4 linked regions of the Homo sapiens genome follow. The protein of the gene in region 2 interacts with the protein of the main gene of each other region in a pairwise test. Each region holds a gene or a part of one and is shown on either strand. Other genes may lie near its edges.

What was found.
Region 1: the proteins of MPPED2 (region 2) and CAGE1 interact in binary tests that used the Homo sapiens proteins (3 or more experiments, as listed by UniProt).
Region 3: the proteins of MPPED2 (region 2) and RXRG interact in binary tests that used the Homo sapiens proteins (3 or more experiments, as listed by UniProt).
Region 4: the proteins of MPPED2 (region 2) and BEX4 interact in binary tests that used the Homo sapiens proteins (3 or more experiments, as listed by UniProt).

Annotation. Positions count from the first base shown.
Region 1 is NC_000006.12:7,386,127-7,394,878, reverse strand, and holds the start of CAGE1 (cancer-associated gene 1 protein), read left to right. Parts: upstream 1-5,136; 5' UTR 5,137-5,677; intron 5,678-7,682; 5' UTR 7,683-7,705; coding exon 7,706-7,900; intron 7,901-8,752. Other genes in the region: RIOK1 (serine/threonine-protein kinase RIO1), read right to left, coding at 1,576-1,780, 1,910-2,016.
Region 2 is NC_000011.10:30,409,450-30,415,951, reverse strand, and holds the end of MPPED2 (metallophosphoesterase MPPED2), read left to right. Parts: intron 1-1,610; coding exon 1,611-1,724; intron 1,725-4,365; coding exon 4,366-4,484; 3' UTR 4,485-5,728; downstream 5,729-6,502. UniProt on the Homo sapiens protein: Displays low metallophosphoesterase activity (in vitro). May play a role in the development of the nervous system.
Region 3 is NC_000001.11:165,441,619-165,449,770, forward strand, and holds the start of RXRG (retinoic acid receptor RXR-gamma), read right to left. Parts: upstream 3,509-8,152; 5' UTR 3,276-3,508; coding exon 3,227-3,275; intron 1-3,226. UniProt on the Homo sapiens protein: Receptor for retinoic acid. Retinoic acid receptors bind as heterodimers to their target response elements in response to their ligands, all-trans or 9-cis retinoic acid, and regulate gene expression in various biological processes.
Region 4 is NC_000023.11:103,210,407-103,217,904, forward strand, and holds BEX4 (protein BEX4), read left to right. Parts: upstream 1-4,701; 5' UTR 4,702-4,832; intron 4,833-5,275; 5' UTR 5,276-5,358; intron 5,359-5,742; 5' UTR 5,743-5,747; coding exon 5,748-6,110; 3' UTR 6,111-6,840; downstream 6,841-7,498. UniProt on the Homo sapiens protein: May play a role in microtubule deacetylation by negatively regulating the SIRT2 deacetylase activity toward alpha-tubulin and thereby participate in the control of cell cycle progression and genomic stability.

The sequences.
Region 1 (8,752 bases), on a different chromosome or scaffold from region 2:
ACAGAAGGTTAAAATTACTGACTAAAAGAGTCTGCATAATCCGTTTTTTTAACTTCTCTATGATTCCTCTTATTATAAGTAACAGATTAAAATTAAGTGTAGTTTTCTAATTTGACTGGTTTATAGACTTAAAATTTGAGAATGTTCATTTACCCCCAAAGTATATAATAAAGAGCTAAGACCAGCATTAAGCTGGTTCAGAATTTCATTTTGGGCCCAATGTCTCAAGAGAGGGAAATATTAAGTACGAGGCTCAGCACTTACGCTGGTGCTATGCGCAAACTTCAATAATGAAATTGCTCAAAGCCTCATTATGAATCAGTGAAGGAGTCACCAGAACAAGACGATATAAAAATGCAAAATTTGTCGTCACTCACAATGTGGTTATTTTAAAATGCACACATTCTGGTCCATGATATAGCCATTTTATTGTTGTTGTTTTTTACAGACAGAGTCTCGCTCTGTTGCCCAGGCTGGAGTGCAGTGGTGTGATCTTGGCTCACTGCAACCTCCGCCTCCTGGGTTCAGGCGATTCTCCAGCCTCAGCCTCCCGAGTAGCTGGGATTACAGGCACCCACCACCACGCCCGGCTAATTTTTGTGTTTTTAGTAGAGACAGGGTTTCGCCATGTTGGCCAGGCTGGTCTCAAACTCCTGATCTCAGGTGATCCGCCCAGCTCGGCCTCCCAAAGTGCTGGGATTAGAGGCAGGAGCCACTGCGCCCAGCCGATATAGCCATTTTAATGGTCAAAGGAAGACTGCTGGATTAACCTTTATGCTCCAGGAAGATGTACCATGTTAATCCTATGGCCTTACAAACTCCTAACACACTTGGTACTTCCAGTATGAGCAGCAGCTGTACGTGGTTTGGTAACTTTTTTTTGTACATGGTAAATAATCACAAACATATTCCTATCTCATTAATACAGTCTTCCATTACAACATCTTTTATGGCTGTATAATGCCTCATTGTGCGAATCAGTCCCATAGCAGGTTTAATCCCGTTCAAGGTTGCTTCCAATGTTCCTCTACCATAAACAATCCTGGAGGATCATTCTTGTAACTAAGTCTTGGCACACTCACAGAATCGCTAAGTCAAAGTATTTTGAAGCTTTTAAAGTTTTTATCACATACCAGCTTATCCTACAAGTAAGTGCACCTATTTACTTGACCATCAATGATATGTTTTGTCTTTAACAGTTTCACAGGTGAAAAAACGGCATCTCTACAAATTTAATCTGCATTTCTTTAATTACCAATGAGGCTGAACTTTTTTACCATGTTTCTTAACTATTTGTAGTAAACTGCCAATCCATGCCCTTTCCCATGAAGATTTTAAGCTCACAATCTTTATAACTCTTTTTAAATTTACAGATTCTGGAAAGAATCCACACCCAGGAAATTATCAGAAATACAGAAAGGATGAAAAGTGAAAATCAGTAAAGGCTGAGGCTACAGGACAATATAACATGAAGAAAATCTTTTAGTTATTCAATTTCAGAATCACAAAACAGCCTTTTAAAAAAGTAGACATAAGCAGACTACATAAAGATGTGCAGGATCCTTTATAAAATACCTGTGGGTTGCTTCCTCCATTCCAGACATAACCCTTGGCGAGTTTTCCAACTCCTTCATCCCAGTCCCAGTCATCATCATCATCGTCATAACCCTCCTCCTCCTCATCTTCTATTTCACCTTCACCATTCTCATTCACATTGTCTTGAAGGTCTTCAAACAGAATGTCATCCTTCTCTTTGACTGTCTTCAAGTCTCTGTTTTCACTAGAAATAACAATGTTTTATTATTTCATAACAATATTTCCACATACCCTAACTGATCTCACATATTTATGATGTAAGATATTAAAATATTGATAAATCTAAAAGATTATATATTTATATAAAATACACCTTCCGATAAGCTCCATCTCCTTAAAACCATGTTCTCCTGTTTTCCAGTTCTGTTGCAGTTGTTTGCTCATTCTCCATGCCCAAAGCCTACTATTCAAGAAGCACATCAAGTTAAATCTGCTTCTGCCTTGTTAAAGTTAGAAATTATATTGTTATCTTCTCTGCTGAATAAACAACTCAGACCAGTATACCAGACTTGACTCTAGGAAAATCATTCGCAGAGCTGCTTTAGAAAATCTCTAGGAAAATCTTTCTGTAAAACAAGAAAAAAGAAAGGGGGAAAAAAGGCTGGTGCAGCGGTTCACACCTTTGATCCCAGCTACTCGGGAGGCTGAGGCCATAGGATTGCTTGAGCCCAGGAGTTCACGGCTGCAGTGAGTCATGATCGTGCCACTGTACTCCAGCTTGGGCAACCCTGTCTCTAAAAAAAATTGTAATTAAAAAAAAAAAAAAGCTTTCTGACAAAAAATTTGGGAATAAGTCTAAGGCAGTCTTACTTTGAACTCGATAACACTTTGCAATAAAAGAAGTTACATCAAGATTTGTGTTCCACAAAGAAATCCAAATCATCCCTGTTCATGATGGGAAGAAATGGTGAATACAGGGACCAGGCACTACAAATGAGAGAAGTAGGCTGCACAATAGAAGTGGGGACTGGCAAACTGGGAGAAGAGGTCCAAGGTAAAGGGAGCACAACCAGTAAGGGCTTTTTTTTTTTTTTTTTTTGCCATATTAGAATTCAGGCCTAGTGTTACCAGATCTTAATTTTTCAAGTGAAGCTGTAAGTCTGGATTTCTGTGTAAAATCTATCCCTTCACTGGCATAGTCAATTTTTACAAATAATTGTGCATACCAAACAAAACATGTCTGCAGGCCAAATTCAACAGAGGACTCAGTTTTTACCTCTCATGTACAGAAAAGGACAGAAACCATAAAAAAGCAGCTGATAATATGAGATACCAGCTGAAAAACAGACGAGTTTAAGTAAATTCAGATTATCAATCCCAATTTATTAATTAGCCATGGCTCTGAGGGTTCCCCGTGGACATGTGGAGGAAGAAAACAGACAATCATCAAACACTTGCTACTTACCAGGACTTCATACATATGCTCCACAGATTGATATATAATTGCCTAGAGTGGCATGTTAAAGTTGTAACTTTGCCAGATAATTCTTCGTTGTGGGGGACTGTCTTCTGCACTGTAGGATTTTTAGCAGCATATCTCTGGCCTCTACTTACCAGATGCCACTAATGTACCACCACCCCCAGCTGTGACATACAAAAACGTCTCCAGAAATTGCCAAAAGTCCCCTGGGTAGAAGTCGGGATGGCAACATCTTCCCCAATGGAAAATCACTGGTGTATCCTTACAATACCCTGGGGTGGATGGTAAATTAGTGCCCTCTCATTACCATTAACTACCCACTAGCTATGCTGGCTGTGTTTCTTCTGCTGCTTTTCTTCTCTAAAGCTTTTTGTACACTTCTCCGTAACCATAAAACTGGAATGCCCTTCCTCTTTCTCTGGCTAACCCCTACTCATCCATCAAGTATCAGCTCACTATCACTTGCTCAAGGAAGTCTTCCCTATTTTTCCCCCACTTCTCCTTTGTACTACTTACCCAATTCGAATACAAATAGTCTAATTATTTAATAATATCGGTTTCCCCTGCTAGGGTGCAAGCTCTGTGTCATTCAGGATGGTATTTACCAATGCCTCCCTACCACCTAAGACTAGATCTGACTCACAGAAAGCATTCAACATACATATATTTATTGAAAACATCCCCAATAATTAACAAAATCCGCATGTGATGAATCCTTACTGTAAACATAAAGTACAAGCTGTTTTCTTGGAATTCCAAAATAACTCCAATATGTTTCATTTTGCTTTTAGGCAGGAGTTATCCTTCATCCCTCTTTCCCCAGACTCCACGTCCAGTCTACCACCAAACGCTGCCACTTCTACCTCCAAGACATATCTTTAGGATCTGGGCTCTAGTCCCCACCATCTTTGAATCTGATTACCTTATTATTTTTGAACTGGTCTCTCTGTTCCACTCCCACCCTCCATGAACATCATCTACCTAGAAAGAATGATTCCTTTAAATCACCAAGCAAATAATGTCATTCTTCTGCTAAAATCCCTCCTATGGCTTTCCATAAGACCCACATTAATATCTGAACTTTTCACCATCACTTGTAAAGGTCTCCATGATCTGGCCCCCCTTCTTACTTCTCTATCACCCTACCAATCTTCTCAACTACCTCCACTGTGCTCTAGGCACTCTGGCCTCGGGGCCTTTGCTCTTGCTGTCCCTTCTGTGTGAAATGCTGTTCCCTCTGCTCTTGCCAGGATTAGCTCCTTGTCATTCAAATCTGGACTTAACCTTTCCCTACCCATTCAGTCACCACTTGGTATATCAAACGATTTGCATAGTCTACATCATTATTTGGTTTTTAAATGGTGTGCCCTCTCTTTCACGTAGAAGGTAAAGTTCCATGACAGCAGGAAGTTGGTTCTTCTTGTTACCTCCGGCGCCCAGGACAGAACGTGGTACATATTAAGTGCTTAGTAAGTATTTGTTGAACGCTAAATGTGGTTAAAACGCAAAAACCCATGTTTCCTAATCGCTATCCCCAACTCTGCCTCCCAGTGACGCTAACCGACCTGAGAACCGCAGACTCCCTTGACAAGTAGCTTTCACTTAACTCTGCCGCGTGAACTGGGAGAAAAACCCAGCTGGGATGCAGAAACAGGCAAAGGGTTGTCAAGAGAGACGCTGAGTGATGAACCACTAGTCTCCCTCTAAACCGCAAACAAGAGTCCACACCCCAAGGGGGCGGTCAAGGAGAGAGCCGTACCCAGAGCCAGGGCACTGTACGGCCGCCTACCTGTCAGAGGAGTCCGCGTCGTCGAATTGCCCGGGGACCACCCGGCTCATGAGAAGCCGCCGGTAGTCCATGACTGGAGAGCGCCGCCGGAGGCCGCCGCTCTGCGATGGAAAGGAACGGCTCAGACGGATGTACCCACGGCCGATCCAAAGGCCTTGGCGTGGATATCCGCCTTGCAAACCATTCAGAAGCCAACAGTGGCCACCACGTGCGACGGGAAAACGGGACCGACAGATCCACCACCCTGCCACCCCAACCGGAAGCCCCTCACCGCCTCGCCCGGAAGTCTGACTTGAGCGGAAGTCCCGCCCCTGCGCCGAGCTGGGAGTCCGGAGCTCTCTGGATGGCGCGCTGTATAGGGCTGTGGATGTTCTGTGCTCTCAGGAAGGCGTGTTGAGTAGCCGGCACGGCGAGGCCCGTGCTGGCCGTTTCTTCCCGGAGTTTTCGTTTCTGTACCCCACTTTGTGTTTACTGCGGCAGGAGGCGCCAGCTAGCCCACAGGCTGTTCGGCCTAGGGGGTCGTACCTTCCTAACTTCACCACTCTCTGGGAAGACACCGCACCCACAGTAGGGTCGCTCGGGCCTCGCGGGCTGCACCTGTCTCTGCGGAGTTCCCCCGGCGCGGGCGGACGTCACACAGGGGCGTTCCAGCACTCCGGGAGCCCGATTGCGAGTTTGTGAGAGTCCTTGGTGGAGGAGGTTGGAAAGCGTTCTCCCTCCCACAAAACCCGGTGCAGAGGGAGGGAGAGCCAGGTCCGTAGCGTGGGTCCAAGAAACTATGGATCCTGGAAGTGAGCACACTTTTGTGTCTTAAAAAGTTTGGTGTCTCGTTTTGAGGTGAAAAATGAATGAGATAAGTGCTTTTTAAAAAGGTAAAGTTTGTCTTACAACTGAAAAAGCTTTTAAACAAAACTATAGTTTTTGCGAGTAACTCCCGTGACACCTCTTTTAACTCCTATCTTAAAACAGCTTTAGAATGTCTCTGGAACATCTATTCAAACATTTGATAAATATGTTAAAAATCCAACATAAACCTGTAAGGACAAATGAAAGATGGAAAAAATAGTCTAACTTTAAATTAAAAAGGTAAACTGGCAGATTGTGCAGTGCCACATGAGGGATGAACAAAGTTGTAGAAATGTAATTGGAAGTGCTGGGTTCACAAACAAGAAAACTAAGAAACAAGGCCTTTGCGCTTTTTTGCATTGGGAAAACAAAGCAAGAATTTTTCAGATCTCACCACAATCCAGGCAGCATTATTTGAAAGACAAGGGAGAAGTGAGCATAAAGTTGGGCCTTTCACTGATCCTGACTGGTCTGCTTGGCTTACTTTTTTATATTTTACCAAGTGATGACATAGGTTTGAAAACAACTAATTTTCAATAAACTATTCATTCAGAAATTCAATAAAAGAATCCAGGCAGATGAGTAATGACTATAAATTGAAAGAGCTTGATAGAAATAAGTCATTGGAATGCAGGTTTTATTCAATCAATATTTGCTGTGTAGACAGCACTGGTCCATTTGCAGTAGGGGATATTGGAAAGCCCTAAGTATGCTCCTCTCAAGACATTTATGATCTGTAAACACAAACACTAACACCCTTGAAACAGTGGTGAAGCTCTAAAACAGTAAACGAAATCACCAAGTGCTGAATTGTAAGATAGAGATTTAGAGACTGAAGACATTGTAGGAATTTTGAAAATAGATGAATGGGTAGATGGGAAGGTTTTAGGAGAGAAGCACGTGCCAGGGCAGATGACTGAAGCTTAATTCGTAAGGAACATTATCTGTCTGCAGGGAAATGAGCCTGATCTGAGTAGAGCAGGGGAGTACCGGGTAGGGGATGTCACTCCAGGCTATGGATGGCCTGGAAGGACAAAAATTTATAGAATCAATGTGAGTGGCCATCCTTTCCACTCTCAGCTCTGGAGCTCTGGACAGGCCTGAGGAAGTCAGGAGAATATGGACCAGTGTGGCAACATGGGATGGAAAGAAAGCACAGGTTACTGAAAGACTTTTTTTTTTTTTTTTTTTTTTTGAGATGGAGTCTTGCTCTGTCACCCAGGCTGGAGTGCAGTGGGCCATCTCGGCTCACTGCAAGCTCTGCCTCCGGGGTTCACGCCATTCTCCTCCCTCAGCCTCCAGAGTAGCTGGGACTACAGGCACACGCCACCGCGCCCAGCTAATTTTTTTTTTTTTTTTTTTTTGTATTTTTAGTAGAGATGGGGTTTCACCGTGTTAGCCAGGATGATCTCGATCTCCTGACCTCGTGATCCGCCCGCGTCGGCCTCCCAAAGTGCTGGGATTACAGGCGTGAGCCACCGCGCTCGGCCCTGAAAGACATTTTTAAAGGAGACATGGACGGGACTTGGTATCTGAATAGCCATGCATGATGAGGTAGAGGGATGCCAAGACAAGTCCAGTTTTCAAACACATGTACCTGAGGGAATAGGCGCAGTATAGGAAAGTGAGGAGGGAAAACAGTTACAATGCTGGGTTTGACTTGGTAGTGAGGTGTTCAAGTGGAAGGTATCAAGTAAATAAAAATCCAGGATTTTGTGGAAACTATTAGGTCTCTGATAATATTTTGTAAATATCCTTGATTAAATAACACAGAGATCCCTTCACTTCTAGGTCCAAAGCCTTCTAGGGAGTTATTGGATAGTAGCCAATACTGTTTGTTTTTCTCCAAATCAGTATTTACTACCATACCAAATTACGGTATACTCAGACTAAAATTTTTAATTTTTCTAATAACTTGACAAATGACATTTCAAATAAGGGCAGTGAACTTTGCTACTTTCTTAATGAGAAGAGGGATAGGGAAAAAACTTTTTGTTTATACCTACTAATAGACACATTTTTTTTTTAAAGAAGTCTTCTATTGTTCAACAGTTATGAACAAGGACTATCAAAAATTTTGGTCATCACCTTCAGATCCTGTACATTTTGAAGTGGATACTTCTCATGAAAAAGTAGAAAGCATGTCAGAATCGGATACCATGAATGTCAGCAATCTTTCTCAAGGTGTAATGCTTTCACATTCTCCAATCTGTATGGAAACCACCGGCACCACTTGTGACTTGCCTCAGGTGTGCATTGCTTATAAGTTCCAGGAGGCTCAGATGTATTCAGAATTCACATTGTCTTCCATATGAAAATTTCTTCAAAACTATAAGGAACAATAAAACAATATTCGGTGGACACATAAAGGAGGGGAATACAGGGTCTGGTTTTCCCAGTTTCGCTAGCGTAAGATACATTTTGACCAGCCTGGGCAACATGGTGAGACCCCATCTCTGCTAAAAATATAAAAATTAGCCAGGCATGGAAGCGAGCACCTGTAATCCCAGCTACTCTGGAGGCTGAGACAGGAGAATCACTTGAACCTGGGAGGTAGAGGTTACAGGGAGCCAAGATCGCGCCACTGCACTCCAGCCTATGCGAGAGAGCAAGGTACATTTTTACACACAGTGTTAAAACTGATCCTTTCTAGCCAGGAGTGCAGCCAGGGGACGTGACCAATTCAGTCAGAGGCAGGACAAGAGCCCAAGGAACCTGACTTCTAGTCTAATGCATCTTCCACTTACATCAGTATGCAAATGATTCAGTTGTCATTCATAATGACATTGACAGCACCCTGCATATAAATGACAACTTTCCTGTCTTCATGAAAATGCCTAGCTCCCTTTATTAAAAAATAAAAGATTGTAATGTCCCAATATCTTCATGAGTGTTGTGCTAAACGTTTGATAGTCAGTGACATCTGATTCCACTAAATAGGAATTTATAAAAATACATCAAAGATATATGCCTGTTTTATATATCTTCAGTGTTAAAAGACTGAAATAACCATCTTAATGCTGTTTAGACTAGATTTAATAAACATCAAATAATTATCAATACATAAATATGCTATCACGTATCCCTAAGTTTATAGTCAC
Region 2 (6,502 bases):
GAGCAGCCTAATTGGGTGCAGGCATGATTTCCCTTTGGCTATTTATTTCAAGGGACTTGGACATCTTCAGCAGAGAAACATTTACATGACTCGAGTATTATTTGGAATACAACTTTGAACAGAACAAACTTATCAAGTCATTGATTTTGGTATAAAAGCAAATGGCAATAAGAGTAAGTCTGAATTGTAGACTCCAAGGATTTCAGACATCCCAGGAACTCTTAATAGGGAAGCTAGCATCCCTCTCTTTATGGTAAAGGTGGAGTAAATGAGAGAGTGGCTGTGAGTAGAGCAGAGTGACAGCTACATCAAGGAGTTCCCAAATAAAAGGTCAGGCAAAGTCTTCCTAAGGTATTGTTAAACCTTAGTTAATATAGCTATTGGGATTCTTGTGAAAACGTGACATTGGAGAGGGGAGTGGAGAGACTGGCCTTGAATTTCTTCCTGCTGGTGAGGGATGCCACAGTGCCGTGAGACTTCACTGTTATGGTATAAGCAAGATGCTTTCTCAGATGTTTGCATATGAAATGGAATATTTTCCCCCTTCAGGAAAAACACATGCATGAGGTAATATGCCAATCAATGTAGCTTAAGAATTCTGCCCCACTATTAAAAAAGTTTTGAAAACGCTGGATAGATTTTTGCTGGGGACCCCACTTTCATCTATTTTCAGACTCTCTAGTCACTCCTTAAACCCCAGCGAATATGTCTTTACAGAGACACTAAACGTTCATGTCTGCAGTTTGGCCCGAAAAAGCAGAAAGCTGTTCCTTACTGCCCAGTTATTTCTAAATAATAGAAATAACCTAATGGCGCTGTGGAATGGGTTTCCAGAGATTACGATTTAGCCTTTCATCCTACCTGCCTTCTTTATGCCCTATCCTGCTGAGGCGTATGGATTCCATTCCAGGCCATAATCATCCAGATAGCTGACTTTTGCTATAATTGATGTCAGTTTTTATGGATTTTCTGCATTAAGTGTAGAACTAAGTGGCTTTTACTTTAAAAGTAGTCAATTAGCCCCAGCTTGCTGGATGCCACTGTGAGGTCACATTTTTGCCTGTCGCTGGAGAGGACAGGACCACAGGAGCAACCTAGCTTTCCAAAGCTTTGGTCATCCGGAACCACAAGGGGTAAGACTTAGTGTATCTAAAGAGAGCTGGGTATCTTGTGACCAGTTTACAGGCAGCTCCTCTCAGTCCTTCTTTGAATCATCTTAGAAGTAAACTGCTATAAGAAAGATATAATAAAATAGCGAAAGTAACTGAATTGAGGGAGAAAGAGATATTATGGGACTGCCGGGAATAAATGTCATTGAGCTCATGAAGAAGATTTGAAACCCATGGCTGAATAAATCAAATCTCCTACAGAAAAAAAAATGTTAATTAACAGGAAGAAAAAAAAATGGAAACCAAAAAAAAATTTCAAGAACCTAAAGAAGACAAAGTGACGAGTGAAAAGTTTCTTAAAAGCCATTGTGAGCTTTAATGGAGAGGCTAGGATTACAGATAATGTAATAAACCTTCTGTGAGTTATGGCTTCCTGAAAGTCTAAATGAAACCTTACCTGAAGAAAGAAAATTAAGTGTATTGATTGCATTTTGCCCTTAGGTTTTCGAGACTGGGTTCCAAAGGAGCTTCAAAGAGTGGGCTGTGTGGAGCTGTTAAACACGGTTCAGAGGCGAGTCCGGCCCAAGCTCCATGTGTTTGGTGGAATCCATGAAGGTAAGAACAGCGGAAAAGAATTCAAAACATTTTGTGCCCCTGTCCACTATCTCAGTCTACAACTAGGAATAAGTGGAGTAGTTGTTTTCAAACTTTTTAGCAGCGGGACCCTTTTATAAGATGAAGTCTTATGAGAAACATCTGAATATAAAGCTGATAAATATTTTATATGGACCTTCTCTCTTGTAAACAGAGTGGAAAGTAGGAAGCACGTCTGGTCTACTAACTGCAAACCCTGCACTCCCCCTGGCAGCTTCTGGAATCTCAGGGCTTTAACGAGGAATGTTTGATAACCACTGCTTTAGAGCAACCCCAAGGTATACAAGGAGTCATTTTCTCCTTAAGAGAGTTAGAAGAAATGGTCTGGATATTAGAAGCTATTTTAAGCCTCTATAGTCCCCTCCTACCTGTAAATATTGTGTTTCATATGGAATTAACACAAAGACCCAGGAAGACAAGGCATTCTCTGAAAAATAGCTTAGGACATGCAATGAAAGATATGTAACAGAAGTGGCGGGAACCTGCACATTTGCAGGTAGACTTTTCCTTACTAACCTCAGAAAACTATTTCAGACTTCTCAGAAATCATCGGAGCTATTAGCTCAGGCTGAGGTTAAGCAGAATAATTAAATCTCTCTTAAATAGGAACTGGTCCAGTTGCCATTTTTCTGCCTTTCAAGGTAAGCTGAGTCAGGTTCACAGAACCGAAAGCCTAACAGGAATCTTCAAGGGATCTGGGTTTTCTCCGACCTGCCTTTTTCAAATCATGGGTAACTGGGCTTTGAGACAGACACAAAGCCCTCTTTCAGCAAGCCTAAGGATTTCTGTCCCTAGCAGATTTTCCCAGTTACACACGCTTGTGTGCAATGGCCGTGTTTACGTGGGCAGCCGCTATATTCTCTCTAGCTCCTGCTTATGGCAGCTCTCTGGAGTTACTTATGAATATGCAGTCAAGTTGAGGTGTTTAAGGCTGTGTGCCTGAGGAAGCAAAAAACAAAGTTTGCTTTTTCAAAGCCCACAAATTCAGTGGCTTCCTGGTTAGGTGGGTAATAAAGAGCATATTGAAAATCATCCTACTGAGGCCAGAGAAAATTCAGTTTGCTCCAAGGGCAGGTACCAGCTGAGTGGGTGGAAAGCAGGGTGCAGCTCCCAGAGAGTGGATATCGGCCTGCCCTGGCTTTGAGCTATGCTCCCTGAAAAGGAGGGTACTGCCCTAAGGTATGATGGAGGGAACACCAGTGATGGGGGAATGCCTGGAGGGGAGACTAGGGAGGTGGGACCTCATATCTAAACTAAGCAACATTTCTGGAGGACTGTTATTCTGAAAACAGGTCTGAATTCGTGCAGCATGCCTATGAGTTTGCATTTTATCTTTGAAAAAAATCATTAATTACCTTTAAACTAGCCAGACAATTGGGGAATTCCACTGAAGCCCCAAAATAATAAACTTGCCTAAAAGGGAGGAGATCATATTCATATAAACTTGTCTCACTTTTATTCACTTAAGACAGCTGAAGAGGGCAGGAAGAGGGCAAATACCAACCTCTTGATGGAGAGAGATAACAAGACTTTATGACCCCAGAACTAAACAGCGCAGATTTTAAATGCCTCTTTTCTTTTCTTAAGAGATTTTTCCATTGACCCTCATTAAGTTCTCCACAGGCTTTACTTGGAGAAATTTTAGCCAATGTGGAAAAAAGCCTTTTCAGTTACTTCTCTATATCTTGGTAATTTTATTTTTTTCACAGCTATGTTTTTATATGCGATAAGAGCCTGATACCAACATAGAATCTTAGTTGAAGAGGCTATAAGGCAAATATAAGGTATTCAGGGAAATGTGCCAACTTGCAAACATGCTAAACATTTTATCATATTGAAAATTATCAAAGGAACATATATACCAAAGACCTAGGGAAACAACTTTCTCCCAATAAATCACAAAAGGTTTATATTGCATATGGGAAGTGTTTTTGCTTGATCTAGTATCCAGGTAAGCTTAGGAAACAGTGACCTAGGGTGATGTTTCTACACATCACTTCGACATGTGATTAGCTGACACTTTTGAATGAAATGGAACTTAGTATTAAAGCCACACAATTCAAAAATCATATATGGTTGACTTTCGTAAAGGCAGTTAAGAGATTATTTCATAAATAAGTAAATTGAGTGTCTACATTTCTTAACTCTCAATGCAGTATCCTTTCCCCCCTCACCTGCCCCATATCCCACTTGGAATTTAGTTGTGTTTGCCCCTGAGGAGTAATCCTTATATTACTCATTTTATTCCCTAGAACTCAATAGTTAACACAAGGCTTTGAAATGAAAATCCTATTTTAAAAGGAGGAAAAAAGTTTTTCTTTATTCTCCCTAGTAAAGAAATCACAGCCCTTCTTCAACAAGTTTAGCATTTAAATAAAGAAAAAAAAATTGCTCTTAGTTGAAGGAGAAGATTCTACCATTTAAAGAAAATAGAGTAAAATTGGGCAGTAGCTTCTGAAAGTCATTATATCTGAGGAGGCTCAACTGAATTTCATCTCACTGCCCACTGACAAAAATTTTTTGTTTTCCTTGCCTGACAGCCCTACATTCCATCACTCTCATTTGTATATATTACAGTAAATGTGACACGCTCTCCCCACAGGTTATGGCATCATGACCGACGGTTACACAACGTACATCAATGCCTCGACGTGTACAGTCAGCTTTCAACCGACCAACCCTCCAATTATATTTGACCTTCCAAACCCACAGGGTTCCTGAAGCTCTAAATGCCCTATTGGAATGTGAGGGAAGGTCTATAAACTGCCATTTTTCTAATTATAAACTTACATTCTCTTACTTATTTACAAACCCTGTGAGTTCTTTTTGTAAATTGTTGGAACACAAATGATGCTAGAGGTTGTGCTTCTTATTTTATTTTATTTTAAATGGGGCATCCATTTGAAATCAGAGGAACATTGTGAATTTGTAAAATGACTTCTGTTTTCTCAAAGGCCATGCCATTGTAAATTGTTAGTGTTCGCCAAAGGACAGCCAAGCTTTCTTTTAAAAAGTGATAAAAGTCTTATTTTAATATGCTTTAAGCTGAAAGAAAAAAAAATAAGAAACAGGCAGTGTTTTAAAAACCAACACAGATTTGCACAACTGTTTAAGAGTATTGTTTGAAATATTTTAATTTTCAATGTTTTGTTGTTGTTGTTTTCTTGGTAATGCTTCTTTTTTGCAGATGTGGTCCCAATTTATAGCAATCTTCTCAACAGAAGTAGGCATGGAAAAGACTTCTTTTCATACTCTCACTATAAAGAAAGCTGCATTGAGAAGAAAATGGCTGTCATTTAAAGGATGGTTTAACTAGTGAGATTCCTATTGTGGTTATACAAGGTCTCATTGTTTGTTTGTTTCTTTTAAATTATTTCAGCTTTAAAAATACAGAAATGGAATCTGTCAAGAGCAGGTATTTCATACGGTTAAAAAAATGAACATGCAGACTCCTTTTCAATATGGGTTTATATATATAAGTATTTTTTGTGTATTATGACTACGTTAGGAGTTTATTATTGTCAAGGACAGTACAACTGCAAAGGGATGCTGTATAGCAACACATCAGAAGTCGGAAGGAACTGACACATTCTCTCAGAGCTCAAGGTCTTAAAGAGCTTGAGTTAAATCTAGGTACAGTTACAGGCATGTATAGACTTAAATGGATGCAATGGAAGCTAACTAAAATAAGGCTTAGTTGTCCTTTCTATTTAAATACCCCAAGTTGTCTTCTTACTTCCTCTCCCCTCTCCCATTTTGCACTGTGTGTCGATGCAATCTTCGCTAGCACAAAATATTGTCGCTAATAGTCATTTCTGTTTTCCCATTGTAAATGCTGTTGAGCTTTATTCTATTTTATGTTACTTTGTTAATGAAATTTAGGAAAGCAGTTGTTTCTTTAAATTTATTGTGATATTCTATATCTAGCGGCCTTTATATGCAAATAAAATTGCAAGATTTTTAAATTCGTGCTGTTTAGAGGGTTGGATGGTGGAGGATGGTAGTTTCGTCCTGGGGAAGGAGGGATTTATTCATATGCAACATCAGTAATGCCTTTCAGAAGAATTAGAATAAGTGATTTTTTTCCCTAATTTTCAATAAATTTTTATTACCCACCATTCACAGGCTGGCAGATAGATCGATAAGGCACTCAGTGTACTCTTTCCTTCCATCATGCTGTCATCTGTCTTGCCTTAGGTTTCATCTTTGGCTGTTGTAATTTCTACAGGAACAGAGAGACTGGAGTTAAGGCTGTGGATTTATTTTGGGCAAGTTTGTGATAGTGAGTTTGGGGAAACCGTTGATGACAGAGTAATCACTGCACATTCTCATTTTCCCCAAGAGCAGTCACCATCTCCTCCTCACTTTTGTAATGATGCCCACCCACAAAATGCTGTGGCAACCAAGAGGGGATAGCAGAAGGGTGGCGAAAACCAGAGAAAATAAAAAAGACATCACCCAGAAGAACCACTGAAGCAAAACAGCATAATCTTGGATCTGCAGTGCACCCTCAAAGTCTTATGTGTCAGGGCTCATTGGATTGTATTCTGGATATATGTTCCTTCCTCCCTACCTATTGTGGATCCTTTGGCGCAATTTCTGAAAGGTGTTCTTGATTTCAGTACCAGCAGAATTGACAGAATGTTCTAAGCCAGAATTCCTGCTCAGAGTCACATGTAACCATCTTGGTCTGTTGTAGTTGTTAATAGTTATTAAGTATCTTGGATGTCACCATAGGC
Region 3 (8,152 bases), on a different chromosome or scaffold from region 2:
TACAATAGTAGCGAGCATTAGTGTTACAGTGTGTTTGTTAAATGAAATGAGAGAAGTCCTCTCTCTCCCTGATCTCCTTCTCACCCTGAGGATTACTGCACAATTGGATGGGGGGGATTACAGGCTTTGTTTTGCCATCTTCTAAGAGGCAGCAACTGTCTCATCCCAGAAAAACAAACCTATTACTGAGCAGCTGGCAAACCCTGGACTTGGCAGAGAAGGAGAAGAGAAGGTTTCTCTCATCATTACATGGTAGGGCCCAAAGCTGGGAGATTGGGCACCTTTGTGGAGCCACCACGTAGCCACCACACTTTGGCCAGTTTGAGCAATCTGTTGCTCACTGATCAGATGATGCTCTGACATCTGGTAAGCATGGTCCCAGACACAAATCTCAGGTGTTATTTCCAAAAGGTGACTTTGCTTCCCTGGAGATTCTTATACAAATCATGGGGCCCTCTGTAATTCCATGTGCTAATATGTAACAGGGCAGGGGGTTATACACCAAGTATTTTAATAAGTGCCGTGCAACTTGCTGCACTGTGGCAGGGGAGGTTAGAGGCCAAAGGTGACGTCCACTCTAATCCTGCTTTCCCCTGTGCCTGCTTGTGAGTCCTCTGTCCCTCTCCCTCATCACAGAAAGTTCTCAAACAGACCTCCCTGCAGACGGGGGCAGAGTCCTTTGGCTCAGCATTTAGGCCTCCTCTTAACTGGCACATGCCAACAAAATGGAAAACCTCAACAGAACTAAACAAAATAATTCTTCTCCTCCCTCAAGAATGACAAAGAAAAGTAGCTTTACAGGAGACATGTAGACAACCTACATGACCCTTTCCCCTCAAGTTCCCTATACTATACTGAACTATTTCCTTCCATAGCTGAACCATTGTGTTTACTTCTATCTGAAATCTAATTACGCTAAATATCAGAGCCCCCACAATTATGAAAATCTATGCCAGCAAAATATGAGGGTCTTTGTGGATTTAATTTTATTTTCCCAGATTCCTTATTTATTATTTTACAATAATGTCTGATTTTTAACTATTTTGCATGTTAGTCTCTGAGTAAAATAGAGGGGAAGAAAATATTGTATTAGGTAGCAAATATATGGACAACACTATAGCAGCTGTTTTTCACATGCTAACTCATTTAATTTTCACAATACTCTAAGGATGAGATTATAAATCCCATTTTAGAGAGAAAGGTGCTAAGGCTCAGAGAGGTTCACTAGCTTGCCTAAGGTCACACAGCTACTAGGTGAAAAATTGGGAACCAAACTCAGCACACTACCTCTTCCTGCCTCCTCTTCCTCCTGGTGCTCTTTTCACTATATTAAAGCAACAATATTATAAATTTGAGTAAGGGCTTTTCTGGAAGTGTTCTGCAGCTCAGCCCCATATAAATTTGGACTAGTCCCTGCCTTCTTTTGAGCCTCAGTTTACACATCTATAAGATGAGAGCCTAAGATGCTGTTTCAGGTCCTTAGGATGCTAACATTCCAAGATTCCAGCCCCCATGGAATTTTAACTAGATCTTCTTTCTCTGGCTCTTACTTTAGTTCTCTCCCTAAATCCTTCTAGCTTCAACCCTTTTATTCACCCCAACTGTCTCCAAGGGTCTCTTTGGCATTAATGAAGCCACAGTCTCACAGACCTTGGGGGGCCCACGAATCTGGCTGAAAATGAGCATGCACCTCTTACAAATGAACTAAGATGTAAAGGAAAAAGCAATTCTCAGCTCTGAATGGGACTGAGGTGGGAATTGAGGAGGCTTTTCACATCTGGAGCCCAACCATAGACTAGAGATCAAATGCCCAGGTCACAGCATTGGCCACCGCTCTCACTCTGTCATCAGACTGGCCCAAAGAACTTGAACATCACCTCGGGAACATTTCCATGGCCCTCACCCCAAGTCCAAGTACAACCTACGTTTGCTATTACACACATCATGCAGTATTATAATGTGCCTGTGTAACAAGCCTGCCCCAGTCCCAAAGGGCAGAGACTGTGTCTCATTCATATTTGTATTCCCAGTGCCCAACACCATGCCTGCCTCATAAAAACTACCCTGAATGAATGTGCAAACTCCCAGGTCTAACACCTCCTGGTGACAGAGATCACTTCTACCTTGCAGTGTGTCACCATGCCTCCCAGGGGGTTCTGCCCAGCCAAGTTAGGCAAGCTTTAGTCCCAAGCCTTCAGATGAATTGGTCCACGGAGGAAGTCTGGAGAGCAGGGACTTTTCAATTTTCAAAACCTTATAAGAATTTCTGCTGTCTTGCCTGCCAGAATCTTTCTTTGGCTCCCAGCAACATAAGCTGCATGCCTCCAACTGACAAGCGACAGGCCAGTTGGTCAGCTGTTGCTTCCATTTACTCAGAGCTGGGCGGCTGTACTGTTTCTGTCACTAAATCAAGGGATCCTTGGGACGGATGTGCTTGGGCGTTAAGGCAGCCTGAGGACCTAGTCTCCGGAAGCTTCTGTGAAGTGTGACTGGGCTGCCCTGCCTGGCACGGTGACTTGAATCTTCAGTTTGCCAATTCTCTAAGAGCCCCAACCCCCCATCCCCAGATCTCTACCCCCAGAGTGGAAGTGATTGCAGCAACTCTTGCAGTAGAATTGGGGGCAGCAGCAGGGGAGGAGAGAAGAGGCTATTAGCAAATCAAAGGAAAGAAAACAGGGGAAGGAAAACACAGTAGCAAATTAAAGCACTATGTTTTCTTTTTAAAAATCCAATTAAAGGGAAATCTGCTTTTGAGTAAAACAATCATGCCCTTGTTACAAAGTATCCCAGGAACCCTCAAGATAGGCAAAACCTTTTTAATCACATTTTTTCTCATTACAAGTTGGCTAATAGGAACATCATAGTAATTCCCCGTTAACTCTTCCACTTTTCACACCCGCACAAACACACTGGGTTATAACAATGCTCTTATTCTATCTTTGTCTCAGACACATTCTCAAGCATGTTGGTTTACTCTCTCCTTAGAATATCCCCGTATCCTCATTCTGATATGCAAACGTATCCTCACCTACAGACCATTCTTTCCTCCTCTCCTCTCTCATGCACGCGTGCACACACACGCTGAAACGCTATATACACACTATATATGCATATAAACATATATGTTCTCCTTTTAATTCAATACTAATCCAGTCATTCGTATTTCCCAATTTCTTCTCAGTCTCTCATACAGGTCCACGCAGTGAAGCCCAAGGGAGATACTTACCTCCATAGCCTGCGGGAAACTTCATGAAGTGAGAATAATTTCCATACATGTTTACTCGTCAGTTCATGTTCCTCTCCTGTGCAGCTTCTAAATATTACCGCCTCTCTCGGCTCCCAGGCACAGCCCGGCTTTCTTCAACTTGGGCTAACAAGAGTGGTCATCGCTTCCTAGCAGCCCGGGGAGCACAGGCTGGGCCAGCCCTCTGGGATTAGTCAGGAATCTGCCTCTAGATCGGAGAGTCCACATAGTGCGTTTGAGACGGCTGTGGCGGCAGCAGCTGGTGCCTGTCAGTAATCACGCATAATGCTGCCGCCGCCGCCGCCGCCGCCGTCACCGCTACTCTTGCCACCGCCGTCGCTGCTGCTTGAGATCCTGTTGCTAGTTTGATTAACTCAGGGTTGGGCTGCTGCGTGCGACTCTTCCAGCTCCCGGCGCGTCCCCAGAGGTCCCTACCGGGTGGCACGATCTATTATCTAGGAAGCCAATCGATGTATGACCGCCCGGTGTAGGTCAGGAGAGAGGCGGGAGACGGCAGGGGATGGAAGACTCTTTAGGTGCCTGTTCCTTGACTTACATCCACAAAAATCAATGGGATTTTATTAAAATGCATTTTCTCATTCGAACTTCTATCTGTCCAATGTACTTGGTATTTGATCTGTGAAAGGAGGAGGGGGTGGGGTTCAAGAGAGAACAGGGCCCTTTCAGAAGCACAAGATTAGAAAAGCGTGATACTCAATCTCCAGCTACGGAAAACTAAAATAGAGTAGCCCTTAAGTTGAGGTGGGCCTCTCCTGCTTGGGTGGCCGGAAGCATTTATCTGTGCTCTAACAATGGGAGTTTGACAAGTGCAGCTGGAGCCAGAGCTCACTCAGGTGGAAAACTTACAGGTAGGGAGGAGGGGTTGGCTTGATGTGGAGGTCTTTCTCTGCATTTATTTTATATACCATTGTTATCCTGCCGCCTGTTCAAAAACACCACTGGGTCCTCACTAACACAGAGCCTGTCTTGTGTGGAACTGACCCGAGATCAAAGAATCTAAGCACCCCGTTGATGTTTGGGTCTGTCATACAGTTTTCGTGACAAGTCACCGCTCAGCCTATACTTGAACACCTCCAATAATGGGGAGCTCACCACTTTCTCATTCCATTTCTAGATAGTTTTCACCACAAGAAAGTTTCTTATAGAGATAAAATCTGCTCCTTTTCCCTACAGCTTCTGCCCACAGGTGCTAGACTGCTCCCAGGGGCCACACAAGAGAAGCCTGAAAGACAAAAAAGTCTTTCACAGTGGGATCCTCTGCAAATCCTGAGATTGATCTGCTGTGCCCATAATCCCCCTTTCCCTAGGCATCTCTGGCTCTTTCAGTAATTCTATGTATCACCAAGGGTTCATGTCTATTCCCAACCTATCCTTTTTCTAATAATGTACTTCAGTTTACATAGATACCCTCACAGTGAGGAAGGGGGTTGGCCAGACTTGGATGCAATACTCCAGATATGGTCCAAACCTTTTCCTCATGGTATATGTGTTGGCACGGTGATGGGGTGCTGTCAACATACCCATTGAAGGTCCGTTTCATGGGCTGAGCTCTGTTGGGCTGGAAAAAAGATAAGAGATTTTCTCCTGATGCAGCATAAGACATAGAGAGCCAGAGAGGTAAGTCAAATCAGGGTCCCAGAGTAAAAAATCAAGATTCAAATGCTAGGAGAAGCCAAAACAAAAACGTAGAATAAAAGACCAGAGTCAGGAACAAAGTCATGATGACAAAGGAGGAGGCCAAAATGGGGAATCAAAGCAAAAGCATGTCACAAAGGAGGAAGAAATATCCAGGCCTTCACTGTAAAGAGCTTTGGAGAGCCCAGAGCTGCCTTGACTGTTGCTGGGATGAGAGTCCAGTGGACATAAGTAATATAGAATACAGGAGGACCATTTGCTCACTTGCATTAGGTGGGCAGCTCTGCATGTTAATTCATGTAGAACTAACTCGATAAAAATCTCCCCACCCCTACCTCCCCTAAGTTGTGTTCTCTTATGCATATTCTTCATCCCATCCTTGGGCAATTGGTTTTGGGACCTACATGAAATGCTTCCTATATTCCTCTGAAGTTAAAACTTTTTGGCTTCATTCATCATCCCAAATCTTTTAGGATCCTGCTTCTGTTGTCCAAAATATTTCTTATTCATACCCTTATTTCATGACTTCTGAAAATCTGATGAACTGCTTTTTCATATCTTATTCGACTCATTGATAAAAATGTTGACATAGACATAGCAAAGACAACATCTTATATCACTAAAAAGTCCATTCATTAGTGCCTTAGACACTTTGCTCTGCTACTCACTAGTTATATGGCCTTGAAAGGCTATATGTATAGTAAAAGCACCAACTCACCAACTCACAAGCCAACATTGCTGGGTACAAATCCCTGTTCCGCTGCTTACAGCCTCATGATACTGGCAAATGAGTAAATCTCCCTGAGCCTCAGTTACCTTATAGGGTTACCATGAGGATTAAATGAGTCAATACATGTTAAGCACTTGAAATACGCCAGATAAATACTAAATGCTCGATACATGTAATCTAATTTGAGGCAAATGATGGGGAGGAGGAGGAGGTCAAAGAGGAAGAGGATGTAACCTTAAGCAAGTCACTTTATGGCTCCTCTCCTTTTTCTCATTTGTAAAATGATGGAGCAGAGCTACATGGGTTCCAATATCATCTTCAGCTTTAAAACTGAACGCAGACTAATGCATCACCCATTCCATAATTGTCCATTTTCTCCATAGTGGTATCTGAAGCAAGTGTCTTACAATCTACAGTTTTCTATTGTACGCATGTCAGAGAAGGAAATGAGTTACTTAAACTGTTTTTTTGTGTGTGTGTGAACCCATGTTTCAAGGGTTTTTCCAAGTACTCAAGTACTCAAAAACCATTCTTTAAAAATCACAGTCTACAGACTTGTCCAAGGTCATTGTCAAGATGATCTGTTGGTTAAGCCACCAACAGATAGACTCTTTCTTCACCTTTTTCTAAGTTCAGTACATTGTCTATTTCTTTTCCTCACAGAAGAAAAACCAAATCCTAACCTGGCATGGAAAAGGCTCACCATTTGTGGGGTGTCTCGGCCTATCATGTGAGCTCTATGTAGAGGAAAGTGCTTTGGGGCAGTAATCACAAGGCTTGGGATACACACTCTCTGGGAAAAACATCCATGCTGCCAGCCTCACTAAGGTTTCTGGATTTAGTTTTGATTTTGTGGATCAGATGTGTTGAGAGTTGGGCACGTGCTCATTTTTACACTGCGAAGTTCTATACAATGGCTTTGTAAAACAAATGCAAAGAATTAATATTTTCCTGATTTTCTTTCCTCCCTTTCTCTGAGAGTTCCTTCTGATCTGGCTGTTTTGCCCACTGTAGGGGTACGGTATGTTCATTCCAACTTCCGGTTTGATATAGTTTGGATGTTTTTCCTCTCCAAATCTCATGTTGAAATGTGATCCCTAATGGTGGAGGTGGAGCCTAGTGGGAGGTATTGGATCATGGGGTGGATCCCTCATGAATGTCTTAGTGCCATCCTTTTGGTGATGCGTGAGTTCTTGCTCAGTTAGCTCTCAGGGGATCTGGTTGTTTAAGAGTTTGGGACCTCCCCCTCCACTCTCTTGACCCCTCTCTCACCATGTGACACACCAGCTCTCCCTTTGCCTTCCACCATGATTGAAAGCCTCATGGGCTTCACCAGGAGCTGAACAGACACTGACACCATGCTTTTTTTTAACAGCTTGCAGAACTGTCAGCCAATTAAACCTTTTCTCTCTATAAATTACCCAGCCTCAGGTATTTCTTTATAACAACACTAAAAGGACTAACACGTAGTTCATTGTTCATGCCCATTTACTTTTTCTCATCACTAAAATTCTTACCTATCATTCAAGTTCCAGCTCATTTCCCACCATGAAAACACTTATCCAAAAAGATGTCTCCCTAACCTAGGTCTGATAAAACTTATTGTCCAGTGTGTTCAGGTGACACTTAGTATGTATGGCCTTGTGGCATCCCCAGTGAAATGGCAAGGAATGGTTATTTATCTTTCCTTTGAATATGTCTTATCTTCATAACATGATTGTTAACTCTTCAAATATAGTGATAATGTATTATGTCTCTTTGTTTTCTCACCTAAGTGCTAAAACACACAGTAGGTGCTCAACAAATATTTCTGTATCAAAAATGCTTGACATAGTCAAATACATCAAAAACAATATACCAAACGGTACCCCAGTATGCTTTTCTTATGATACCTTCCATATGGCTTAATACCCCATAACAAACCATAAGCTCTGCCTAAAGATCAACAAATATGAATGTGGTTTTTTCTTTTTAACCCACTTTTTTTTTTCTTGGCACCATTGTGTCTTCCCTAAGACCATTATTGGTATAACAACGTTATCCTAAGTGGCTGGTATTTCTAACATAAGCCCTTCCCAAACAGCTCCACTGACTTCAGTCACAACTGTGTCTCCAGCTGTTACTGAATTCTCATTAGGATGTCAAGTGAAAGACCAAATGCTCAAAGTCTACAGTAGGAATTAGCTAATTCATTCACAAGAATTCTTGGCCTACTTCTTGTCAAGGCTAGTTAACTAGTCCTCTTAAATAATATGTTCTACTTTTACTAAAGCCATTAGTGCCTTTGAATAAGTGGAAAGAGCATGGATTTTGACTAGTATGTTTGGCTGTTTGACACAAATTCGGCCAATAATATCTAATATTCACCCTGGTAATCAAAGGATATAGCTTTACGTCTGCTCTTTTTTTCTCTTTTGACCCGTGGTGATATAAAATAGTATTTTGCAGCAAATACAAATGAAAAACCAAACTCATTCATTTGACAATGGCCAATAAACTTTAGCTATAGAATTTAGATGCAA
Region 4 (7,498 bases), on a different chromosome or scaffold from region 2:
AACAAAACAAAACAAAGCAAAACAAAACAAAAATAACCCTGTTTTTTCTCTGCAGTGGACACCATCTGGGCATCCTCTAACCCAATTCAATTCTGATGTTACCTACCTGGAGATAGCATTAGATCCCACAAGTTGCAGTCTCTGTCCCATAAGACTGTCCCCGCTTCAGACACCAGTGGCAAGTCTCGGCCTCTGGAACTTCTGACCAACCGGCTTCAGGTTAAGATTCCCAAAACCCCTTATTCAGGCTTCATTAATTTGCTAGAGTGGCTCACAAAACTCAGGGACACGTGTGTACTGGCTTATTATGAAGAATATTTTAAAAGATACAGGTAAGCAACCAGATGAAGAGATACATAGGGCAAGGTCTGAAAGTGTCCCGAGCACCGGAGCTCTCGTTCCTGTGGAGTTGGGGTGTACTGCCCTCCCGGCAAGCTGATGAGTTCTTGTTTACCTTCTTGCAGGCCTCCATGAGTTTACCTGTCCAGAGGCTCTCTGTGTCCCATCCCCTTGGGCCTTTTATCAAGATGTCATTAGATAGGCAGGGCTATCATGGACAACCATGTAAAAATGTGATTGAACAAAAAGGGTATAATCTAACACTATTAGACTGAGTAGGGAAACCCAGCAAGGCCTGACTATTCAGATTCTTCTTGGCCTCTCTGTGCAGCATTTCTTCATCCTGGGTATGGGGGAGGACCCCTTCTGAATTGGGGTCTTATTGAGGTAGAGACCCACAGGATTTATTTCCCTGGTCCTGACAGATTAAAGTGAAGAAACGCAAAAACCAGCAGATGGCGACAAAAGCGATCTCTAGCTGCTCTCATTGCTCATTAGTATAAGACGCTCCCACCCAGTGCCACAGTTTACAAAATGCCATGGCAATGGCCCAGAAGTTACTGCTCCTTTCCTAGAAAGTTCTAAATAACCTACCCTTCAATTTGCATTAACCCACTCCCTAATTTGTGTGTAATTGAAAGTGGGAATAAGTGAGTATAAATATAGTTGCCAAGAGCTCATATGTTGCTGATTCTGGGTGCACTGCCTTTGATTTAGCCCTGCTCCACAAAGAGCAGTACTGTTCAAAAACAGGTTGTTGCCCAACACCACTAGCTCACCCTTGATTTATTTTTCGGGGTGAAGCCAAGAAGCCTCCCTGGCTAAGCCCCAAATACGGGAGCTTCCCATTCCTGCATCATTATGACCTACAGTCAGACAAGGTAAATCGGAGAATTTACTTATGGCCACCTCCAAGACAGAAAGGCAGGGGAAAACTAGAGTATATTTTTAGTTTATGTGGTCTGCCTTGGAGAGAAAAAAGGAGTAGGTGAAAGGAGAGCAAGAGAAGGTCAGGGAGAGAAATTCTGTCTTTTGAGGCCTGCTTCTGAAGCCTGAAAGAGCCCCAACATACACGGAAAGACAGTCTTTTTTTTTTTTTTGAGACAGTTTTGCTGTGTCGCCCAGGCTAGAATGCAGTGGTGCGATCTCGCCTCACTGCAAGCTCTGCCTTTCGGGTTCACGTCATTCTCCTGCCTCAGCCTCCCAAGTAGCTGGGACTACAGGCGCCTGCCACTACACCCAGCTAATTTTTTGTACTTTTAGTAGAGATGGGTTTTCACCGTGTTAGCCAGGATGGTCTCGATCTCCTGACCTCATGATCCACCCGCCTCAGCCTCCCAAAGTGCTGGGATTACAGGTGTGAGCCACTGCGCCCGGCCAAGAAAGACAGTCTTTTATGTTTATGGTTCTGAAGCTGTTCCGAAACAAAAGGCCAAATACTTTAATCAAAGATATGCTGATTGTTCTAGCCACTTAGGAAATAACAAAGGCTATGGGAATTATGAGCCAAAAACCACAGATGAATATGTGTATCTCACAGTACCTGTAAGTATAAAATAAAGAAAGAGGTTTTATGCACACCTTTTTTTTTTTTTTTTTTCAGAGAGACCTGCCTCGGCCTCCCAAAGTGCTGGGATTATAGGCGTGAGCCACCACACCTAACCTTTATCCACTTTGTTAGGGACAGAGTGGGTCTCTGGCTCAACAAAAAGCCCAGATAAATCAATGGGGCTTTGGCATATTAGGTCAGCAGAAGGGAAAAGGCCAGTAGAAGGGACAGCAGTATGCAGTAAACATGGAAGTACCTAGGGGAGAAGGAAGGAGACACAAAAGTTGGAGGCACCTGTAAGCCAACTGGACTTGTTTCTGAATACAGTTTAGATAACCTGTAGACACATCTATGCCTGACGGTATTCAGAAATAAAATCAGTAAAACTTTCAACACGACAGCAGAGCATTAAACCAGGAGTAGAACTCTTCTGACATCAGGGCCCTGTGCCACAGCACAAGTCATATACCTATGAAACCTTCCCTGGCTGTGTGTGTTGGCTGATAACAACTTACATCTTTTTTCGGGAGGAGTGAGGGGACAAGGTCTCACTCTGTTGTCCAGGCTGGAGTGCAGTGGTGCTGTCATAGCTCACTGTAGCCTTGACCTCCCGGGCTCAAGCAATTCTCCCTCCTTAGCTTCTCAAGTAGGCGGGACCAAAGTTGCGTGCCACCACACCCAGCTAAATTTGTGTGTGTGTATGCGTGTGTGTGTGTGTGTGTGTGTGTGTGTGTGTATGGAGATGGGGTTCTCCCTATGTTGCCCAGGCTGGTCTCAAACTCCTGGGCTCAAGCAATCCTCCTACCTCAGCCCCCCAAATTGCTGGGATTACAGGCCTGAGCCATACAACTCACATTTTACCTCTTCTCCAGGGAATTGTTCTCTGCCAAATGGGAGCCACCTTGCTCCAGAGACTATGCTCTGCTCCACCTACAGACTTTGATCTGTGACTGACGCTGAGCTACAAAAAGCCAGTGACTTACTGTCAACGTGGGATGACTTGTGTGTGCTTCAGAGTTTTCAGGTGCGATTAACTAAACTTAATCTCTAGTTAAACCCCATTCTTCATCACTGCCCTGCTCCCCAGCCCTGTCCTGCTGCCTTTACTTCCTTTAACCTGAGAGAGCATTACAAGAAACTACATTCATAAGGATCTCTGTTCCAAGTTCTGCTTCTAGGGAGCCCGACCTAAAATAGGAAGGGTCTCTTTATAGAAATATTTCAGCTAAAATCCCAAAAAGAGGAAAACAGAAAGAGTCTTTGCTTTCCCTTGGACAAACTTGAATTGAAATTGAACCCAAATTCCAGGATGCTTTTCTAGAATTAGTTACCATCTTATAGGAACCACAGAGTAAAGAGATAATGTGTTAATGACACCACTGAGATCCAGACTGTAGGAAAATACAGAACAAATGACTATTTCATCAATAATTAAAGAAAAAATTAAAAAATGAAAACCCACAGATTAAAAGAAATTTAGGAAATTTGGCAACCAATCAAAATGCGCATATCTTATTTGTATCTTGATTCAAACAAACTGTTAAAAAAAACTATAATACAATTGGGTATTTGAACACAGATTAGACATAAAATGATATTAAGGAATTGTGAATTATTAAATGTGACAACAGTATTGTGGTTATATGCTAAAAAGAAGAAAACCCTTATCTTGTAGATACATACTTTGAAATATTTATGCCTAAAGTGATATTATGTCTAGAATTTGCTTCAGAAATAATTTTAAGGTTGGGAAGCGGGTAAGATAAAGACGAAATAAGATTGGCCATGAGTTGTTAACTGTGGAATCTGAGTGAGGACTAGTACATGGGGTTTGCATTATACTATTCCATTTTTCCAAATGTTCGAAATTTTCCATTAAAGTTAAGATAAAGTTAAACTATAAAGACTGTTTCTTAAACAAAAAAGGGGCCGGGCGCTCACGCCTGTAATCCCAGCACTTTGGGAGGCCGAGGCGGGCGGATCACGAGGTCAGGAAATCCAGACCATCCTGGCTAACACGGTGAAACCCCGTCTCTACTAAAAATACAAAAAATTAGCCGGGCGTGGTGGCGGGCGCCTGTAGTCCCAGCTACTCGGGAGGCTGAGGCAGGAGAATGGCGTGAGCCCGGGAGGCGGAGCTTGCAGTGAGCCGAGATCGCGCCACTGCACTCCAGCCTGGGCGACAGAGCGAGACTCTGCCCCACCCCCCAAAAAAAGGAACAGAACAGAAAGGTATTAAGAAGAATTAGAAAAAAAATCCACTGTCCTTGACTCATTTCCTGTCCCCCCCCAAACGTTCTGGTGTGGAGAAAAGGATGAGCATTGGTAACAAGTACCACAGTTTGCCATTGGGGTGGGCGGGACTGATGCTCTCTTTATTTAAATTTTTGACATCTTGCTCATCATAAATTTTCTTGCAATAATTGTTTTTTAAAATGTTGCATTAAAATGTTATTTTTCTTGACTGCTGAGGAATTTTGCACCCCTTTAAATTCTGCGCCCGCGTCCTGGTTGGGAGATGTGGGGAAAATCCTGGGAGCCCAGGACAGGGAGAGGCAAGTCCCCACAGAAGTGGGAATGGCCAACAGCTCCCTGAGAAGACAGCTTCCCTCTTGGGGAGGCAGAGGAAGTCCCAAGAATACACAAAGACAGGAGAGTGGAAGGGCCGGCCAGTCTGGAGATACTAAAAGAGACTCCGGATGAGGATAGGGGCTGACCCGAAAGCCCCGCCTGACTCCGGGCTGCAGGAGGGGGCGTGGGACGGGGGCGGAGCCGTTGGCGATGACAACAGCCCCACGTGACCGGCCAACACTGAGTGTTGTCTCGCTCTGGCGTCAGAGCCGTCGTGGCTCGTTCCATTCTCGGCGGTGGTACCTGCTCCCGGTGGCCCTGAGGACGTGTGGGCCAGGGGCGGCCCCGAAATTAGGAAGCGGAGGGGGAGCAGGTAAGGAACCCGGCGGGGGGTCCCTGGGGTTGGTGTGAGGGAGTGGCTCCGGCCTGCGGATGCCCACCCCGGGGGAGCCGTGCGGAGAAGCAATCGGTCCGCGATGCAGCCCCCGGGCCCCGCGGCGGGCCCGCGAGCCTTCCTTGAGCGGAGAGGTGCCCGGCCCGGAGGGAGCCGGCGGTCCTGGGGCTACGACCCTTCGGAAACACCTGCCTACGCCATCAGCGCAAGCTTTTCCGACACCCCTGCCCCGCACTTCTTGGTGCAGAAAATGGTGGTCAGCTTGCGGGGCGGGGCGGCTGAGGCGGGGGGCGAGGGTGGCGAGGAGGGCCAGGGCCAGGGCCAGGGCCAGGGCCTCGGGGCGGGGCGGGGGAGGGGCCGGATGGCGGTAGTTCCTAGCTAGCGTTCTGCTGCAGCAGCCCCCACTTCCCCCACCCCGGCAGTCTGCAGGTCTGCGGGGCTAAGTGTCGCGGCGGCGCACCTCGCGTCAAGAATCCGGAGGAGGAGACTGCAAGGATAGGCCCAGGTCGGTGCGAGGGTCGGTGGTGAGGCGGGGGCCGGAACGTGAGGAAAGCCCAGTCTGAGACCCTAATCCATGCCTTCACCCTCGCCCCCCTCTACCCCATGCAACCCTCCCCTTCCCACACGCCATCCTCGTCCTCCATTTTGCTGCCTGCGGAAGCCTGGAGATGGATCTACAGGGAAAATGGTGGGCTTTGCGGAAGGGAGGGGCTCGGATTGAGGGCACCCCACAGGGCATACTGGCTTCTCAGGTGGAAAAAAATGAAATGTTAGAGTATAAAGTCAAGTCCAGGGCTCTGAATTTTAAAAGGTGCCTAGTAGGGCCTCTGTCCTCAGTGCTTATCAGTCCACCAAGAATTCAGCCCATTTTCTCTCTCTTGTCTCCTAGGAGTAATGGAGTCCAAAGAGGAACTAGCGGCAAACAATCTCAACGGGGAAAATGCCCAACAAGAAAACGAAGGAGGGGAGCAGGCCCCCACGCAGAATGAAGAAGAATCCCGCCATTTGGGAGGGGGTGAAGGCCAGAAGCCTGGAGGAAATATCAGGCGGGGGCGAGTTAGGCGACTTGTCCCTAATTTTCGATGGGCCATACCTAATAGGCATATTGAGCACAATGAAGCGAGAGATGATGTAGAAAGGTTTGTAGGGCAGATGATGGAAATCAAGAGAAAGACTAGGGAACAGCAGATGAGGCACTATATGCGCTTCCAAACTCCTGAACCTGACAACCATTATGACTTTTGCCTCATACCTTGAATCCTAAAAGTTTTCGCTGAGGTTAATGTGAACACTGCTTTACAAGCTTGTATTTTTGTGATTTACTTTTTCTGTAAGCCTTTTGGGGTTTACACTTACCAGTTTCTAATGGAAATTAGAATTCTAATTGAATATTGTTTTGTCTCAGCCTAAAAGTTACGGTCAGCATGGCAATTCACCTATTTTAGGAAAAATACTCTTTTCATAATATGAAATGCATAAAGCAGTTCAAAAAGCAGTCTGTATTCCATCATCTTCCTTTTTCATTCCAGTCCTTATTTTTGTAAGTATTACTTTTCCTCCTCCGGCTACCTGGACTCAAAATCTCAGTTGTCTTTGACAGTTTTTTTCTTGTCCCTGACCAAAAAAGAATGATCATACCCAGAATTCAATGTTTGATATTTTAAGAATGTATGTTCTAGTGTTTTTCAGAGTGAGTCTACCATCTGTATAAAAACACCTTGGGGGCAGGCAGGGGCATTTAAAAATGTAGGACCTATCGTCCAGACTCACAGAGTGGGGCTCCAGAATCTCCATTTTTAACAAACTCTCTTAAGTAATTCTGATGTGTACCAAAATCAGTGCCATTGGTGTGTGTGTACGTAACTATATACATATGTGTGTGTGTGTATATATATAATGTGTCATAACCGTAAACAATAAACAATATCAAGATAAATCTGACTTTGATGGGCAAGTAATTAAAAAAGAAAAGTATGAGACCTTAAAATAAGACTGATGATTATAGGAGTGGTAGGGACAGTGGCAAAGTTATTCACTGTGCAAAGCAAAACATGCCTGAAGGTCACAGCCTGAGGAACTCAGAATTCATCACCCCTGTCAGCAGTTTCACATCCAGGATCTCATTTTATTCTTAGAACAACCTATAAAATCTGTATTGTTATCCCACTTTTACAGATGAGGTCACTGGGGCTTAGAGATGTTAAGTACCAAGGCTAACTCCTGCTGAATATCTTGGGGGTGGGGGAATCCAGCCTGGGCCATTTTCTATTGGACCTTATCATCTGGAGATGCAGAATATTTGACTTTTGTAACTTGATGACAAGCTGAGGATGGTAAAAGAGACTCAGCAAGAATGGGGCTGTTTTTCTATACACTGTTTTTCTACATCTCAAGTACACTTTAATTTTTAGAATATTGAGGGATAAAAAAAGTAAGATCCTCTAGTGTTGTTCAAAGTTAGGATTGCCACTCTATGGCTCTTGAAATCAGTTTTGTGGGTTACAACAAGCAATTTTTTAAAAAGAGAACAAAAGTCATCCTATCACCCGTGAGTAGTGTTAAGAATTGTTTTGGAGAAAATAATGTGTTCTATGTAGTAAATATTGCCACCTTTATGATGTATTTCTAACTAGATCACAGTGAAA